Linked DNA regions of Homo sapiens. The protein of the gene in region 2 purifies or fractionates together with the protein of the main gene of each other region. This does not show direct contact. Each region holds a gene or a part of one and is shown on either strand. Other genes may lie near its edges.

The links.
Region 1: the proteins of RWDD1 (region 2) and DNAJC1 purify together in Homo sapiens (affinity purification with mass spectrometry, with the first as the bait; one large-scale study listed by BioGRID). This does not show direct contact.

What each region holds. Positions count from the first base shown.
Region 1 is NC_000010.11:21,885,231-21,888,730, forward strand, and holds part of DNAJC1 (dnaJ homolog subfamily C member 1 precursor), read right to left. Parts: intron 1-3,500. UniProt on the Homo sapiens protein: May modulate protein synthesis.
Region 2 is NC_000006.12:116,595,504-116,598,175, forward strand, and holds the end of RWDD1 (RWD domain-containing protein 1), read left to right. Parts: 3' UTR 1-2,172; downstream 2,173-2,672. UniProt on the Homo sapiens protein: Protects DRG2 from proteolytic degradation.

The DNA of each region.
Region 1 (3,500 bases), on a different chromosome or scaffold from region 2:
AAAAAACACAAAAAAAGGGCAATACATAATGGCAAAGGGTTCAATTCAACAAGACTTAACTATCCTAAATATATATGCACCCAACACAGGAGGACCCAGATTCATAAAGCGAGTTCTTAGAGACCTAAAAAGAGACACAGACTCACCCACATTAATAGTTGAAGACTTCAACACTCCATTGACAGTATTAGACAGATCACTGAGGCAGAAAATTAACAAAGATATTCAGGACCCAAACTAAACAGTGAACCAAATGGATCTGATAGATCTCTACAGAACTTTCTACCCCCAAACAACAGAATATACATTCTTCTCCTTGCCACATGGCACATACTCTAAAATTGATCACATAATTGAACATTAAACTATCCTCAGCAAATGCAAAAGAACCAAAACCGTATTAAACACACTCTCAAACCACAGTGCAATAAAAACAGAAGACTAAGAAACTTGCTCAAAAGAATGCAATTACACGGAAATTAAATGACATACTCCTGAATGACTTTTAGATAAATCATGAAATAAAGGCAGAAATCAAGAAGTTCTTTGAAACTAATGAAAACAAAGATACAACATACCAGAATATCTGGGACACAGCTAAGGCAGTGTTAAGAGGGAAATTCATAGCGCTAAATGCCCACATCAAAAAGTCAGAAAGATCTCAAATTAACAACCTAACATCACAACGGAAAGAATTAGAGAAGCAAGAACAAATCAACTGCAAAGATAGCAGGAGACAAAACATAACCAAAATCAGAGCTGAAATGAAGGAGACAGAGACAAGAAAATCCATTCAAAAGATAAACAAATCCAAGAATGGATTTTAAAAAAAAATTTAACAAGATAGGTAAGCTACTAGCTAGGCTAATAGAGAGAAAACCCCAAAAACCACAATTAGAAATGATGAAGGGTGTCATCATTACCACTGACCCCACAGAAGTAAAAATAACCAACAGAAACTACTACAGAAACCTCTATGCACACAAACTAGAAAACCTAGAAGAGATGGATAAATTCCTGGACACATACACCCTCCTAAGACTGAACCAGAAAGAAATTGATTCCTTGAATAGACCAATAATGAGCTCCAAAATTGAATCAGTAATAAATTAGGCTCCCAACTAAAAAAAGGCCAGGACCTGATGGATTCACAGCTGAATTCTACCAGATGTACAAACAGCTGGTATCATTCCTACAGAAACAATTCCAAAAAACTGAGGAGGAAGGACTCCTCCCAAACTCATTCTATGAGGCCAGCATCATCCTGATACTAAAACCTGGCAGAGCCACAACAACAAAAAAACTTCAGTTCAACATCCTTGATTAACAGTGATGCAAAAATTACAAAATATTTGCAAACTGAATCCAGCAGCACATCAAAAAGCTAATCCACCTCAATCAAGTATTCTTCAACCCCAGGTAGCAAGGTTGGTACAACATAAGCAAATTAATAAATGTGATTCTTCACATAAACAGAACTAAAGACAAAAACTGCATGATTACCTGAATAGATACAGAAAAAGCTTTCAATAAAATTCAACACCCCTTTATGTTAAAAAAAACTCTCAATAAACTAGGTATTCCCTTTGAAAATTGGCACAAGACAAGGATGCCCTTTCTCACCACTTCTATTCAACACAGTATTGGAAGTCCTAGCTGAAGCAATTAGGCAAGAGAAAGAAATAAAGCACATTCAAATAAAAAGAGAGGAAGCCAAACTGTCCCTGTTTGCAATTGACATGATTCTATATCTAGAAAACCCCATAGTTTCGGCCCAAAGCTCCTTTAGCTGGTAAACATCTTCAGCAAAGTTTCAGGATACAAATCAATGTACAAAAATCACTAGCATTCCTATACTCCAACAACAGCCAAACCTAGAGTCAAATCAGAAAGGCAATCCTATTCACAACTGCCGCAAAAAGAATAAAATACCTAGGAATACAGCCAACCAGGGAGGTGAAAGAGTTCTATGACGAGAATTACAAAACTCAAATAAAGAAATCAGAGAAGACACAAACAAGTGGAAAAACATCCCATGCTCATGGATAGGAAGAATCAGTATCATTTAAATGGTCATATTGCTCAAAGTAATTTACAGATTCAATGCTATTCCTATCAAATTAACAACGACATTCTTCACAGAACTAGACAAAACTATTTTAAAATTCATATGAAATGAAAAAGAGCCTGAATAGCCAAGACAATCCTAAGCAAAAAAAACAAAACTGGAGGCATCACACTACCTTACTTCAAACAATACTACAGGGCTACATAACCAAAACAGCATGGTACTGGTACAAAAACAGGCACATAGACCAATGGAACAGAACAGAGAGCCCAGAAATAAGGCTGCACACCTATAACCATCTGACTTTTGACAAAGCTGATAAAAACAAGCAATAAGGAAAGGACTCCCTATTCAATAAGTGGTGCTGGAATAACTGGCTAGCCATATGCAGAAGATTGAAACTGGACCCCTTCTTTACACCATACACAAAAATCAACTAAAGATGGAGTAAATATTTAAACATAAAACCCAAAACTATAAAAAACCTGGAGGACAACACAGGCAATAGCAACCTGGATGTAGGAATGGGCCAAGATTTCATTACAAAGACACCAAAAGCAATTGAAACAAAAGCAAAAATTGACAACTGAGATTTAAACTTAAGAGCTTCTGCACAGCATAAAGAAACTATCGACAGAGTAAAAAGACAACCTACAGAATGGGAGAAAATTTTTGAAAACTCTGCATGTGACAAAGGTCTAATATCCAGGATCCATAAGGAACTTCAATAAATATACAAGAGAAAAACAAACAACCCCATTAAAAAGTGGGCAAATGACATAAACAGACACTTTTCAAAAGAAGACATCCATGCAGCCAATAAGCACATGAAAAAAAGCTCCATATCACTGATTATTAGAGTAATGCAAATCAAAACCACAATGAGATACCATCTCTATCCAGTCAGAATGACTATTACTAAAAGGTCAAAAAATAACAGATGATGCCAAGGTTATGGAGAAAAGGGAACACCTATACACTGTTGGTGGGAGTGAAAATTAGTTCAACCATTATGGAAGACAGTATGGTGATTCCTCAAAGAGCTAAAAGCAGAACTACTATTTAACCTAGCAATACCATTACTGAGTATATACTCAGAGGAGTGTAAATCATTCTACCGTAAAGACACATGCACACAGATGTTCAATGCAGCACTATTCACAATAGCAAAGACATGGAATCAACCTGAATGCCCATCAATTAGCAATTTGATAAAGAAAATATGGTACATATACATCATGGGATACTATGCAGCCATAAAATGTGGTACATATACACCATGGAATACTATGCAGCCATAAAAAGAATGAGATCATGTCTTTTGCAGGAACATGGATGGAGCTGGAGGCTGTTATCCTTAGCAAACTAAACCAAGAATAGAAAACCAAATACCATATGTTTTCACTTACAAGTGAGAGCTAAATTATGAGAA
Region 2 (2,672 bases):
GAAGCAATAATTGTTCCATCTTGGATTATCGGTTTTGCTCTTTGATTTGGTAAAGTTTTTGTTTTTCTACTCGTGCCAGTTGTATTAAAATGTCACTAGGTTAAAAACAAACACAGATATGTTTATTCATTACTGTATCCCTGTAATAATGCCTGGCATGCAGTAGGTCCCTAATATTTGTTGAATGAATGAATTATAGAATAGAGTGCAAAATTAATTCTAATGTATTTTAAAGTAAAGCATGAGAGTTCAAAGAAATGTTGTATTTGCCATCTACAACTTGGAATAATGTTCCTTGATCCTGCTTTACTTCATGCACTTTTGCCAGCAGAGGTGGATGCCTTAGGGAAAAAGTTGGATAAATGCTGATCTAAGGCAACACGTCTAAATGGTTATGTGAACATTTCCCAGTTGGGGTAAAACTAAGAGGAGTGATAATAACATCTCATCAATTTAAAGGACAAGTTCACTGATCGTACTGTCATACTCCAGAGATACATGTGCCAAGAAGCAAAGAGATGCACTCTTGTATTCCAGAAAGAAGATGATTTGTAAGTGTTCAGTATTTGTGTGGCAGCCCTTTTAGGTGTAATGAAGTGTAACAGAAAAGTAAGTGAACTACTTCACATAGCTCTTAATGTTTGTCTTTCAGAGGACATACGAGTCAGGCAGCAAAAGTTGGAGCCATTGTATGATTGTGTGTCAAAATGAGAGTCACACACTTCAAGAACTGTAGGAACTAATTTTAGAAAAAGACTCTTCAGAACAGATGACACATGAAATGTGAGTTTATGTAAACATGTAAATTTGAGTAGCATTAGTTTGTTTTCTGTTTAGGAACTGTATCAGGGTGACAAAGATGAAAGAATGCTGCCAGAAAAGTATATTGTTAAATTTTCAGGCCTCCATTGGTGAAGTTTCAAGTAACCTTTCACTTAAGTTACTTGTGTCAGAGGATGGATGATGGGGTCATTTAAATTGTTGGACAAAGCCATGAAAGGACTTTTAAAATTTTGTCATAAAAATAGCCAATGATGTTTTTAATTTTACATCTAAAACTAATTTGCATTATCCTGTGTTAGTGACTGAATCTCAACTCAGTCCTCATTTTTTAGTTCAACTTTTGACAACCTTATATTCATTGACACCATGGACAGCACAGTAAAAAAATACACAAATTTCTTTTGCAGTTATTGATTTGGAATGATCACTTTAAAAGAGCCATCAAATACGCCTACATATTGAGCCACTCTTTATCATTAAGGTGAAAAGTTCATTCAATTAAGGTATTTGAGTGCTACTATGCGCCAGCCTTTCTTTGTGATAATGTTAATTTTTTTTTTCCTCCCCTCCATGAAGGGAAGAAAAAAAAATTAATTCGGCCATGAATTTTAATATTCTGGCCAGCACCTTATCCATTTGTAGCCACGCCAACAAATTTATTCTGTGATATACCAAACTTACAAAGTCACTCTGCGATTTCAGTAAGGCCCATTCCCAACATGAGTGCTGCTGTCCACGGTACTGAACCATCAATGCTAAATGGTATTTAGTTGTGGATCTTCATCCTGTCATGCAGCTAAATATTCCAGGAATACTGAACCAAGTGAGGAGAAAGATAGCAGTGGGTTGCTGCAAAGGAGGTGAGGGGAGGGGAGAGATAGCAAGTGAGAAAAAGAGAGACTAGTGGTGATGTTTTTAAGTAATTGAAGTAAAAAAGAGAGAGAAAGAGAGAGAGAAGAGGTTCTACTCAGTCCACCAAAGCTTTTTAATTTCCTTACATAATTAACATGATGAATTTTTAAATAATTGTTATATTTAGTTTTGTTCTTCCACCTTTTGGCTATTTCTACTACATATTTACTTATCATAAAAAATACTTCCTAGACCTTCCTCTTATAGCTATTGCCTATCTCTGCCTTTGCAGCTGTTCTCCTTTAAAGAGTAGTCTCCATTAGTTTTCTTGACTTCTTCATCTCCCTGCATAAAGATGAAGGGTATTTAGCTCTGAAAATCCTTTACTGTTGAATATTTAGATTGTTTTCAATTTTTACATAATGAACAATGCATCATGGGATTATTGGCTGCAAATAAATTGGAAACATAAAAGGTGTTTTAAGTTTAAATTTTTTTAAAAAAACAGGTAAAAATAAAATATTTGCCAAAGACTAAGGGTTGCAAAGCTACCTCATGATACACTCTTATACCAATACTAAAATAAACTTCACAACAACAAAATTAGTGATTGGGAAATTACAGTTTTGATGAACTTGGCATTTCAATCAAAGTCATATTTGCCACCGTTCTCTCAGTAGCTTTAGGCCAATTTCCAAATTGCTTTCGACAAATTAGTTTTATTTGTTTATATTATATTATATATATATAATATACATATATTTAAATTATATTTATAATTCTTTCAGTCAGATTTCCTGGAGAACAATAGTTGTTAGGTGCCTACCAGAAAATAGGACTAGAAAGTCATGTTGGAGCCATATTGTGGAAGTCCAAGGAAGTCGGATGGGAGCAAAGGTCATTTCAATTATATATCAAGCTTATATTCTATGGAAACTAACCCCTTCCTAGCACATATATTATTGAAAAATTATTCACCTGCTATTTTATCAATGTCATTTATAAATTAAAATTTTTCTTATTATAACTATACCTTA